Regions from separate parts of the Homo sapiens genome. Here region 2 is reported to be linked to region 1. The links are microRNA targets in miRTarBase. Many come from high-throughput screens and were not tested one by one. Region 1 holds a microRNA gene; the other region holds the end of a gene's coding sequence.
Evidence for each region. Region 1 holds the annotated microRNA hsa-miR-6877-3p (CAGCCUCUGCCCUUGGCCUCC, at 2,035-2,055, opposite strand). A microRNA usually pairs through its seed, bases 2 to 8, with sites in the 3' UTR of a target mRNA and lowers its output. Matches are read on the target gene's strand: a 7mer-m8 pairs with bases 2 to 8, a 7mer-A1 pairs with bases 2 to 7 and ends in A, and an 8mer does both.

Region 1 (3,000 bases):
TTCTGCATTCAAAAGAGTCTCAGCAACGGGGGCAAAAGGTTTTTTTATTCTTTCCAAATGAAAAGATTCTTACTACAAAAGAGAATGCTAGAAACTGAAAGATAAAGAGAGAGAAAGGCAGGAAGCAAAGCTTTCAGGAATTTTTACCGTGTTTCATTCCACAACGGATTCGGAAATCGAGGACTTGATAAATCTTGGCATCTGGGTTTTTTCGGGGGTCATACCCAAATCGAATCCATAGGCTGCGCCAGGGGCCTGTTATCTGGGACAGAAAAGTGGGGAAAATGTGAGGTGAGGTGAAGGCCCAGGTCCCTGGACGGGCCAGAGCCTACAGTGAGGCAGCAGAAGAGCTCAGGAGCTGGGGACAGGGCTCTGGATGCCCAGCCCTGCTCTGCCACATGCAGGCCCTGTCACCTTGGTGAGGGCACGTGGCCTTTCCAAACCTTGGTCTTCCTGTCAGATGGAGGGAAAAGGAGCACCCTTTCCTGTGGGTTTTTGTTTTTTGGGGGAGAGGGTCTCACTCTGTTGCCCAGGCTGAGTGCAGTGGCAAAATCACGGTTCACTGCAGCCTCAACCTCCTGGGCTCAAGTGATCCTCCTACCTCAGCCTCCCAAGTAGCTGGAACTACAGGCACGAGCCACCACACCCAGCTAATTTTTAATTTTTTTGTAGAGATGGGGTCTCATTATGTTGCCTAGGCTCGTCTCAAACTCCTGGATGCAAGCGATTCTCCCGCTTCAGCCTCCCGAAGTACCGGGATTCTAGGAGTGAGCCATCATGCCTGGCCTCCCATGGTTTTTCAGAGGATTAAATGAGATAGCGCCCGTGGAGCCTTTACCATGGTTCCTGGCACATATTAAGTGCCCAATGTTACTACTGGCCTAATCGATGAGACATCTTCTGTCCCTAAACGGAGCTTTTGAATGGCTTATGTCTAAAAAGCCAATGCCAGCCAGCCGCAGTGGCTCTCGCCTATAATCCCAGCATTTTGGGAGACCGAGACAGGCAGATCACTTGAGGTTAGGAGTTCGAGACCAGCCTGACCAACATGGCGAAACCCCATCTCTACTAAAAATGCAAAAAAAGAAAATTAGCTGGGCATGGTGGCGTGCGCCTGTACTCCCAGCTACTTAGGAGGCTGAGGCAGGAGAATCACTTGAATCCCAGAGGCGGAGGTTGCAGTGAGCAGAGATCACACCACTGCACTCCAGCCTGGGAGACAGAGTGAGACTCCATCTCAAAATAAATAAAATAAATAAAATAAAATAAAATGCCAACGCCAAGCAGCACAGGTCGCTCTCCTGAGCCGGAAGTCCAACAAGGCAGAAGAAATGAGTCTTTCTTGTGTCCTACTGCCTGTTGCAGACCCTCACAGTCATGTCTTACGCTGGCCTCCCCTAATGCTCTGTGAGGCCTGGCAGCGGGGAGGATCCCTTTCCAACCAGCACCTTTGGAACCTCAGTAATGACATGTGTCTTTACATGCTTGTGGATCAAAGGTGGATCTGCCTCCCACTGAACCCCACTCAACACAGGTAGAGGACGACATGGGGCCGCTGTGGTCAGGGGCTGGGTTCTGCAGCCCAACAGGCTGTGGAGGGCGCCCTGGACTCAGGGAGCTGAAACTTTTCTAGCTGGCTTTAATAAGCTGTCTTAGGGATGCTAGGATCGGGGGGCCAGGACAGGGGGGAAGGAAGGATGGGGGTGCCAGGACGGGGGAGGTGCTAGGTTGGGGGCAGGGCAGGAAGGATGAGGGCCAGGCCAGGGGTGGGTAGGAAGGATGGGCCAGGATGGGGGTGGGGCAGGAAGGATGGGGAGCCAGGATAGGGGGTTGGCTGCTCTTACTGTGGCTCTAAGACATCACAGCAGGGACCAGGGACCACATGGGTGGAAACCAAGGCAGGTGGGTGGGCAGCTGACACTTACCATGTAATAGGCTATGAAGGGAAGCAAGACCTTGAGCTTGTCTGGGTGGACGCTGATGTTGGCCTTGACAGCATTTCGGGACCAGATGGGACGGATGTCAAACAGCTGGGGAGGCCAAGGGCAGAGGCTGAGATGAGCACCAGCAGCTTCCACCCTTCGGCCCTGAACTCCCAACATGTTCTGGGCCCCAGCGGCCCCTCCAGAGAGGAGCTGGTAGAGGACAGGGGCTGGACACACAGGGCGTGGCCCTAGGACCTCCTGCTCTCACTAATTCATCCCTTCCCTCAGAAGCCTGGGCTGCATGCCCAGCCTGTGCCAAGTGCAGTTGTGGGGCTGGGTCTCTCAAACGATAAGAGACATGGTCGCTGTCCTCATAGAGCCCACAGCGCGGTGGGGAGTACGGCTCAGGGGGCACATGCTAGAGTCCCAGGGTCCCCATGCTGCCCCAATCTACAGAACAGGTGCCTGAGGTGGGACATCGTCAGGGCTGAAGGGGACAGCCTGGCCCGGGGAGGACTGCAAAGGTCAGTGTGGCCGGAGTGTAGAGGGCCAGGGGGCTGGGGCAGCGGGCCTCACGAGCCAATTCAGGTCAGGAATGTGGGCTGTGCCTGGTGGGCAATAAGGAGCCACTGACAGTGTGCCCCAGTGACTGCTGGAAATCAACAAGACATCCACGTGGTCTCCCACAGGCACACTGCGTAAGGGAAGCGCCGGGCTCCAGGTGGCAGTGGCCTGTGAACCTGATGCTCATGCCAGTGGGGACGCAGGACTCCACGGCACCCGCAAGCCCGGGGAAGGAGGGCTGCCTGGCAGCACGGTTCCAGTTCTAACGGTAAGAAAGTGCTGGGCCTGGCACACTAGGTGCCCCACTGGCTTGGCTGCAATGAGTGAATGGAAGAATAAGAGCTCAGTGGATCCCAGAGCTCCACGTTTATGTCACATCTGAACAACGCACGCATATTTTTCTTAAGAACTCTAAGAAGCATTTTCAACCTTGGGAATGTAGAACTTATACCGACACAGCCTTTAGACATGGCATCTGAAGGTGAGAAGTTCCCATGCACTAAGGAATGGG
Region 2 (3,000 bases), not on the chromosome of region 1:
AGAAGCCCTGCTCCCATTTTTCCACCCACCCATTCCCCCATAAAACAGCTTATTGTCTCCAAGACAATAGACATTTAAAATGTGATGCGGGTTTATGATCCAGACCACAATCAGAATTATATCTTGGGTCATTTATGTGCCGTCTGTTCTTGATTCTCTATGCTCTAAATCGGTGTTTTTCAAACTGTGGTTGCAGTCCTTTGGTGGATTATGGCCAGCATTTTTTAAATAGGTAGAATAGAATAAAGTAAAATAGAAAATAGCAGAGTACATTGCTCTCAGTGTAGGTAAGTATTGTTTTGTTAGTCATATGTGCATGTGTGTACTGAGTGCCATGTAAAATGTATTCCTGCTGTGGTAAGCTGTGGTCGAGGAGTTTGAAAGCCATTGCTTTCAAATTCCTCTCAATTATACTGACCCTAGTCAGATGGGTCAGCCTGGGCAAGGGCCCACATTTACATTTCCTTTCTGTAAGGGACAATGGGCAATTATCACTCAGCTCTTGATAGGCAGGGAGGAAGACCAGAGAAGAACATCGACATAGAGAAACAAGAGTTTATTCCAATGGAGAAGCAGCTGAGCCGAGGGCTTGCCATTGGGCCTGGGGTCTGCAGTTACAGAAGCAGCAGGAGGCAGACAAGGAAAGGCACAGCACAAGACCCAGGAAAGTGGACCTTGTGGAGCAAGGCAGTGAGGGCGAGGAAAGCTTTTAGGATTTTGAGACCAGGTGCTATGGCACAAGTGATAAGTGAGCCCTCTCCTTTCCTTCTGAGGGCAGGGGAGGCAGCTGAGAAAGGGCAGGGGAGGCAGCTGAGAAAGGGCAGGCCAGGTGTCACAGGCAGCTCCTTGCATCCCGGTTCTTCTCTAACCCAGTCAACCCCAGGCTCAAGACTGTTTCAGCCCAACGGTCCCAGTTCCCTTGTTCAGGTTAGCTGTACCACTGTCTTTCTCTGCTCCTTTTTTGTTTGTTTTTGGAGACAGGGTCTCACTCCTTCACCCAGGCTGGAGTCCGATGGCACGAACTTGGCTCACTACAACCCCCATCTCCCAGGTTCAAGCAACTCCTATGCCTCAGCCTTCCAAGTAGCTGGGATTACAGGTGTTCACCACCATACCTGGCTAATTTTTGTATTTTTTAGTAGAGATGGGGTTTTGCCATATTACCCAGGCTGGTCTCAAACTCCTGACCTCAAGTGATCCACCCACCTCAGCCTCCCAAAGTGCTGGGATTACAGGCATGAGCCATTGCGCCTGGCCTCTTTCTTTACTCCTAATCCATGATTTGAGAGACTCAAACCAGCCAGAAAGACTCTCAGGGATCTGGCGTCTTAAGGTTCGGGTTCTTCTCTTCACAGTGAATTCAAAAAAGCCTCTGTCTCCTGACAGACCCCAAACTTTAAAAAAAAAAAAAAAGCCTCTGTCTTTTTGCTTTGGCAAAGCCTGGCAGGGGGTTAGAAAGCCACTGATTCCAGGACAATACAAGCTTAAGCTCAAGAGGCCAGAGATGGGGATAGGAAGAAGGCCTAATGAGGTGGATAGTTCTAGAAATCAGAAAGAATGCTGAATAGGTGAAGTCTGAGTGGTGACAACCTCACTGTCCTGTCTGCCTCACAGGAGCAGTTCTCTACAAGGCTCTTCCACACACACACACGCAAGGCTCAGGGGCTCGGTGGGTACAAAAAGCCAGTGGAAACGGATAAATACCTATAGCGTTAATAGCAGAAGTATGTCCAAGGTTTTGCACAGGGTAATCAAACTAACTGGCTTCAGACATTTGCAGCCACAGGAAAAAATAGCTCTCAGCCTTATGAGATGGACATTCCTATACTAACTCCCGCTCTTTGTTGTATTGAATTCTGGCTGTTTCTTCCCCCACTCAACTGTGAGCAGATGTGCACAGACTCCGAGAGGCAGACACCAGGAGGTCCAGGGACATAGGTTGGTGAGGCATGGCGGTCTAGTTGTGGGAGATAATGAGGCCCAGAAGGTGTGGTGAGAGACATGGTGGTGTGGGAAGTTGAGTTGTGTTTGGGGTGGTATTGGGTGATGGACAAGGACAGCAGTCAGCAGAGCCTTCGACCCAGCCCAAGCAGGCACCCCATTGTGCTTAGGTTCCTATCTGTGGTCTTGATTTGGCTTTGCTTTTCTTGGGAGGAAGATGAATCAGAATCCTGGCATCGTGGGCCCTCTAGTGAAAACTCGTCCTGGGGAGTAGGACAGCTGCTGAGAAGCAGAGAGGAATGCGGCCAGCTGGGGAAAATGGGACAGCAGGGGTCAGGGAGGTGATTGGAAGGGCAGACACCATAGTCCCCAGCTACCTGGCTTCAAGAGCCCCCGTTCCCCACACGCCTCTTCTTCTAAGGCAAGGTCTTTCCCTCTGGGGACTGACTGAGACAGCAGTCACTGGCCAGGCTCTTGGTACAAAGGCAGGAAGGGTAGCTCTGAGAACGGGGCTTTCAGCCGCAGCACTCCGTGCTCCAGGTCGATGCAGCACTGCGGGGTGTAGAGCAGTCATGCCAGGTCACCTCAGCCCGCCACCTGCCTCCCGGCCTGCTCCTTTTGTTCCCCCTCCCACTTCCCACAGCTTCCACCTGCCTTTTGCTCTTCCCCCATCCCCATTTCCCTAGACTCCTGTTGAAGGGGGTGACCCAGTTCTCTTGATTTTTCACTTGGTGGTAAGTAAGGAACCTCTAAGGAAGCAAAGGGACAGTTGCCCATCTCTAAGTCACTCTCATCAGAACCTGGTCCAGGTTCCACACCTGTGCCTTCTACTACTTTTTCCCAGTGCTTTGGGTCAGGCCCTGAGTGGGTGCCTTACCTTGAGAGAAAGCAGAGTCTGCAGGCCCAGGCAGAATTCAGGACTCTCAGCATCTATAGGAACAATTTGAAAACAGAAGAGGCTGAGGGTTCCCAGTGGTCACTGCTGCCCTCCTCTTAGCCGTTGCTCCTTCTCTGCCCACCCCATCCCCAGATCCGAGGACACTGGCACAGAGATGGGGG

Region 2: miRTarBase lists NRIP2 as a target of hsa-miR-6877-3p. Seed matches in the 3' UTR shown: 7mer-m8 at 1,413-1,419 and 7mer-m8 at 1,368-1,374.

Annotation. Positions count from the first base shown.
Region 1 is chr9:133,051,090-133,054,089 of GRCh38, reverse strand. MIR6877 (microRNA 6877) reads right to left here and starts at 2,094; the gene lies at 2,031-2,094. GTF3C5 (general transcription factor IIIC subunit 5) reads right to left here. Exons shown (of 11, transcript NM_012087.4): 5 at 1,926-2,030; 6 at 148-262.
Region 2 is chr12:2,824,807-2,827,806 of GRCh38, forward strand. It overlaps NRIP2 (nuclear receptor interacting protein 2), which reads right to left. Exons shown (of 6, transcript NM_031474.3): 5 at 2,819-2,871; 6 at 542-2,493. The coding sequence ends at 2,401. ITFG2 (integrin alpha FG-GAP repeat containing 2) reads left to right here. Exons shown (of 12, transcript NM_018463.4): 12 at 1-270. Among named protein-coding and RNA genes, the nearest start is that of NRIP2, 8.7 kb to the right of the region's middle. RefSeq lists a silencer at 317-611.